Linked DNA regions of Homo sapiens: region 1 is linked to region 2. Evidence: fine-mapped expression QTL. Tissue or cell type: sun-exposed skin. Region 2 holds a variant in brackets; the other region holds the start of a gene. All regions are shown on one strand. Distances are between the middles of the regions. Region 1 holds the start of TPRG1 (tumor protein p63 regulated 1). Region 2 overlaps TPRG1 (tumor protein p63 regulated 1).

Region 1 (2,920 bases), 130 kb before region 2:
TTAAAAGAATGGAATTCAACCAATTTACTTTGTCAGCGCACACCCGTTCCTCCAGCCATCAAACAAATACAATCTGATTTGGCCAGAGTCTGCTGAATGAAGTAGAGAATTTAGGATAGAAGATTGAAATTCAATCATACACATAACAGCATTTTGTTTTCTGTGCTCTCCTTTCTTTCAGCAATCCACCTACTTGTGCAGTTCATACTTTATTTTATACCAACTCTGTATGTAGAACACACTTGCTTAGGTTTCAGAATGTGTTCATTAAGATTCTATTTCATTTTTTTAGCACCGTTGCTATGTCAAATCTTATCCTAGGTTTATTCTCATATGCTTCCTTTCAAGTTCTATCTGCATTTCTGAAGGAGAAATGATACTCTCAACTTACAGATGACCAAAATTAAAAAACCTCAGAAAGATAGATTATGACTTGCTATAGGCTGCAAAGCCATTAAATGACAGATCAGGATTCACTAAATAGATATTAATGGATCATCATTAATTCAATGTGTATTTATTTATTACCTACTATCTGCTGGGTGTTTTGAGGAGTATATGAGAGAATAAGATGTAGCATTGCCCTCAAGGGGCCCCCCATCTAGGGAGGGGGATACACACTTACATAGAGACAATATCATGTGGCACATTTCCTAATAGGAATACTGACCAGAGATTGTGTGTACATGTGTTTGTTTTCAGAGATACACTGCTCTACATGTCTTCTACATTTTTGACAAGAGTGGTAGTGATGCTTAAAATCACAAATATCCAATAAATCAAGCCATCATAAAGAATATTAATGATAGGAGTGTAGGCCTCAGGCTTAAGCTTAATTATAACTACTTGGAGGCATACAGAAGCCATGGAGGAATGGATGATAGGCTGCTCCTGCTCCCTCAGCTGGATGTGTATTAGAGGGAGTTGGCAGAAAAATGCAGGACTTCTTGAGGGAGAGGACAGGAGGTAAAGGTGTGTCATTGCAGAACAAGAAAGGCCCCACCCACAAACCCAATTCTCTGCCTCTGACGGGTTGAGTTCCACCCTGTAAACATCCTCAGTCCTTTCATTTGACTATTTGAGGGTGGCAGTGTAACTCTCAGCCTACTTGGTGAAGTGAGATTCAGACTGAGTGGGGTCACAGCACAGGGCACTGTCTTGCCTGGCTTTATCTGAGCCAATCACACCTCTCCTGGCCACTATCTGTGGTCTAGCCCCCTTTGTGCAGAAAGAGAAAGAAGAGCCTTGAGGACCAGCCTAGTCAGGTAAGATCAAGTGGCTTGTCACTGGTTCTGCAGAGATGGGTTATTTCTCTATGAACCAATTGCTTCTGTCCCCTAAGCCGAGTTTCTGGTCACCTCCCCCACTGACTTGCAGTTTGGTTTAGGTTTGTAGTTTTGCATTACCATGTGAAATTTCCCTATTCTTCCTTACTGTCCAGGGTTGATGAGGCTTGTAGGCTAGCATTTTTTAGCCTATAAAGCCACTTGACATACTTATCTATATATTGATTTTGATCTTAACTGCCCTATAGTGCAGTAGGATGGGTATAATTTTCTCCATTTGGTGGCTTAGTGAACTGAAGCTTGGTCAATTGAAGTGATTTGTTCCAATTGGATCAGCAGGTTAAGGCCAAGATTAGATTTGATTCCTTCTTCCCTCTTCCTCTATTATAGAACCCAGCAGGTCATACCTTATCCCCAAAAGCCAAAAGAAGTGAAAAGCCTTTCTGAACCGTTAAATGGCAAACAAAAGGTGATTATTTCTTTGCAGGCAGTTTGAGAGGGTTATTTTTGAATTCATCTGAGGGAAATTTCATAATAATATATAGGTCCCATCAAACAGGGCTGTTTTTAGAGAACAAACGAGGGCATGTATGTAAAGGGGAGTTGTAAACTGAAAGGTGATAGGCAAATGAGACAGCGATGACTACTTGGCGCCTGAGACATCCTCCAGATCTCTGTATAAGCAGGTTTTAATTCGGGGCTAAATGACACTCTCCAAATGTCAGAGGCAGCGTAGTGAGGCACAGATCATACAGGCCCTGGGGAAATATTTTAGCTTTTCAGTCACACTGTGGTATGTAGAAAAGCAAATCTCAATGGGGGAAAAACACCCCCAAATCCTTTCAAATACACTCATGCAATTTCCTCTCTTGTGACAGCTATCATAGTATCTCATTGTTCTACAGTTTTAAGGAAATCTCATCTTCAGTTATTATGTAGTTTACTTTTTAAGATGCTAATTTTAGCTATCATTTTTCTTTTCATGCTCAAAAGGTTATATCATTCTTAGTTGTGGAAGGAAATGTTTCCTCTGTGTGTGTGTGCATGTGTGTATGTGTGTGTGTGTCTGTTTGAGTTTATTATGACAGTACTGATAGTCATCCCTTGGGGCCACCACAAATGCATTGGGTTGTAATGCTATATAATCTTTGGCAGACTTCTATATATTCTTTTTCTTTCTTTTCTTCTTCTTTTTTTTTTTTTTTGAGACAGAGCCTTGCTCTGTTGCCCAGGCTGGAGGGTAGTGGCGCGATCTCGGCTCACTGCAGCCTCCACCTCCCGGGTTCAAGCGATTCTCCTGCCTCAGCCTCCTGAGTAGCTGGGATTACAGGCATGCACCACCACACCTGGCTAGTTTTTGTATTTTTAGTAGAGACGGGGTTTCACCATGTTGGTCAGGCTGGAACTTCTATATATTCTTGGTGTCTTTCTGGCTGTAAGGATCCTGAAGAAATCGTTTAATTGATTACTTTATTCAAAACAGAGAAACTGAGGCCCAGAAAGATGAAGTGATATGCACAAGTCACACAGCCAGTATCATTGGAGCTGCAAGTCACATATGGGTCTCTTACTCTTTCATTGCCCACAATATGTAGTGAATGGTGCTAGGAGTCCCAAGCAGAAGCATTAGCCAT
Region 2 (2,920 bases):
GAATGTAAACACATTCTGCAAATCTTATTGTCTGACTCTGTGCCAGCGTCTTTTGGGTTCTTGTCATGGAAAATATTTCCTCTGAGGTCATTCAATGAGCAAAGGAGCATTGAATACCCTCCAGGGTGCCAACTCTGTCCCTGCTTTTGTCCAGATTAAATAAGCAAGAGACTAACATTTCATGGGCCTAGAAGTCTGCCTTTCAACAATACTTGCTCTAAGGTAGGGGGAAAGGAGACATTAAGAAAATAGATCATGTTGTTCTGAGTTGCTCTCTCCCCATCGCCCGCCCGCCTCCTCCCACTCACAGCCTCCCTCTGTTTGCTCACCCATACTTACAAGCACACGCCCTGCGTTTAGAGCAAGAGTTAATGTCTGTGCTTCCTCATAAATCTCGGTTTGGTGCCTCGAGCTATGTTTTTAATTCTGTGGTGGAGCTTTGAGATTTGAGATGAGTAGAAAGGAGGGGCAGCTGATGGAGGTAATAATGAAAGCTGCCATCTTTCCTTCTAGGGAGCTAGGTGTCCTCATTCAGTTTTGCTAACAGGTAGGTTAGTGCCTTAACAGAGACTCTTTGGAGGCCAGGGTAGAAGGAGAGTGAGAAGTCCAGGGAGAGGAAGCCAGCTATGTTGCCCTATGCAAGAGGACCTGTGGCTTCTCTCTGAAGAAAGAAGAATGCACGGAATGAGTATATTAACTCAGACTGAGGACTGACTGGCATATTTTCTAGCTCAGCTAAAAACAACTTGGAGGAGAGGAGTCTTTCCTGTCAAAAATAATTTATTCTCTTACAAAGTTGGTTATCAAAGAATGTGTTTCCTTCTTCCAACCTGTAGCTGCTTTTTGTGTTGTTAAGCCATATTTGTTTTTCATGACTGTGTGCTTTGCCACTAGTATGAGCAGTTTCTACTGTATAAAACTCACCCCTTCAGCATGTCTTTGCTTTTTTTGTGTGTAGAAAGCAAAACTTCTATTGGTCTGCTATGATGATTTAAAGTAGTAATTGCTCTGGTCTTCTATCCTGCCAACAACGGTGTTTGAGTAGAACTCTGAATCTGAGTCACTGAGTGAAACATGTAATTAACATGACTAAAGTAAGAACTGTGATCTTTGAAAACTCTAGTCTCAGTTACATATCTATAAAATCAAAGAATTGGAAACTGACCTCTCCAAAAGGCCTTCCAACTCAGATAGTTTAGGATCCTAAACATCCATGACTATTACAAACCTTCTTCCACCAAGTCCTTATGGGACCCTTCCCCTGCCTCTGCCTCTTTCTGGGAGGCTTTGGAACTTACTAGAAGTAAAGAGTACATTGTCCTTCTTACTTCCACTACTGTGGGAATGGAGGCCAGATCCAGCTG[T/G]TTTCCTTGAGGATAGAAAGTGGGAATAATTGAAATAAGTGATCCTCTATTTCTGAAATGAGACTTGCAAGTTTCTATTTGTGCTTTTTGAGGTCTGGGAACAAATTGATAGTAAAATCGGCTCATAGATTGTCAGATCATGGGCTTACAGAGTTCAGGCACTGAGTCTTATTCCTTTCTCTATACCCTGCATAGAGAATGTGCTAAGAAAATGGTGGAATTGAAAATGGAGAACTTTGGAATGTTTTAGAGGATCAGCTCTGAGGTGATTTAAAAGATTACTTTTAACCCATCAGAAAATATAATTAAGAAGTTAGGCTTATTCAGACTGAAGAAAAGAGAATTGAAGAGCTTATTTAAGCTATCTGAATGGAAGTTTTTCTGATGGATTTAGATTCAAGTAGAAATCTTACATATGAAAACATTGATGGAAAGCAGAAGCTGACACATAAGAAGCATCCTTGGACCCGGATACAGGTGGAAGAAGAGGTATCAATAGGTGAAGACAAGCATAAAACATCCCAATACTTCCTCTGTGCTAGAGATTTGCTTCTCTGGTTTTGTTTATGTCCAGTGATTCTGGTGTTTTTCCTTTCCCTGCCCCTTTTTTAAAATTACATTTCACTAGTGGTTCTTGACTTGATGATCTGATTAAGTCTGGTGATATTCTTTAACTTATTTCCTGTAACTACATCTATGTCTTCAAAAGTAGCTCAAAATTACTATATGGGTTAAATAAAATAAAAAATATAAGATCTCTAACAGTACAGAGTGGGTAGTATGGTTCATAGTAGACACTCAATATATGCTGGTGGGACAGTGCCTTACAGAAACAAAACTTTTTATCATCCGTTATCCTCCTGTTTTTCACAAAATTATTGTGACCTACAGATCAGAAAGGTGGTGTGAAATGCCCAAAGACACAAGCTAGTGAAAGTCATGATTTATACCGAGTATAATTTCAGAAAGAAAACTTCCAAATATTTATTTGCTTGATAATTTGATGTTGGCAACCTTTACTTAGGACTTTAATTAACCCATCATAGCAGCTCAGTGAGAAAGACCCAGTCTTCTTCTTCTTTTTGTTTGAGACAGAGTCTCGCTCTGTTGCCCAGGCTGAAGTGCAGTGGCATGATCTTGGCTCACTGCTACCACTGCCTCCTGGGTTCAAGTGATTCTCCTGCCTTGGCCTCCCAAGTAGTTGGGATTACAGGCTCCCACCACCACACCCGGCTAATTTTTGTATTTTTAGTAGAGATGGGAGTCTCACCAAGTTGACCAGGCTGGTCTCAAACTCCTGACCTCAGGTGATCCACCCACCTCAGCCTTCCAAAGTGCTGGGATTACAGGCGTGAGTCACCGCACCTGGCCAAAGACCCAATCTTCTCACCCTGACAACTTAACTTGTTTGTAATTGTCTCCTTCACATCCAGTGCTTCCTTATTTTCCTATAGTCTCAAAATTGCTCATATTGAGTATATTTAAGAATGCATAGTTTGTTTTGAGACAGAGGTTTTCTTCTGATAACTGACTGGGATCCGTAGGCAGGCTTTTTT

What was found. PIP is the estimated chance that this variant, and not a neighbour inherited with it, causes the effect. A credible set is the group of variants that fine-mapping cannot tell apart.
Region 1: it holds the start of TPRG1, and the variant in region 2 is the best candidate, but not a certain one, in a credible set for the expression of TPRG1 in sun-exposed skin (GTEx, PIP 0.65).

The regions. Positions count from the first base shown.
Region 1 is chr3:189,170,867-189,173,786 of GRCh38, forward strand. It overlaps TPRG1 (tumor protein p63 regulated 1), which reads left to right and starts at 1,105. Exons shown (of 6, transcript NM_198485.4): 1 at 1,105-1,265.
Region 2 is chr3:189,304,589-189,307,508 of GRCh38, forward strand. All of the region lies in intron 4 of TPRG1 (tumor protein p63 regulated 1), which reads left to right. Among named protein-coding and RNA genes, the nearest start is that of TPRG1-AS2, 65 kb to the left of the region's middle. The variant T/G (reference allele first, on the strand shown) is at 1,365.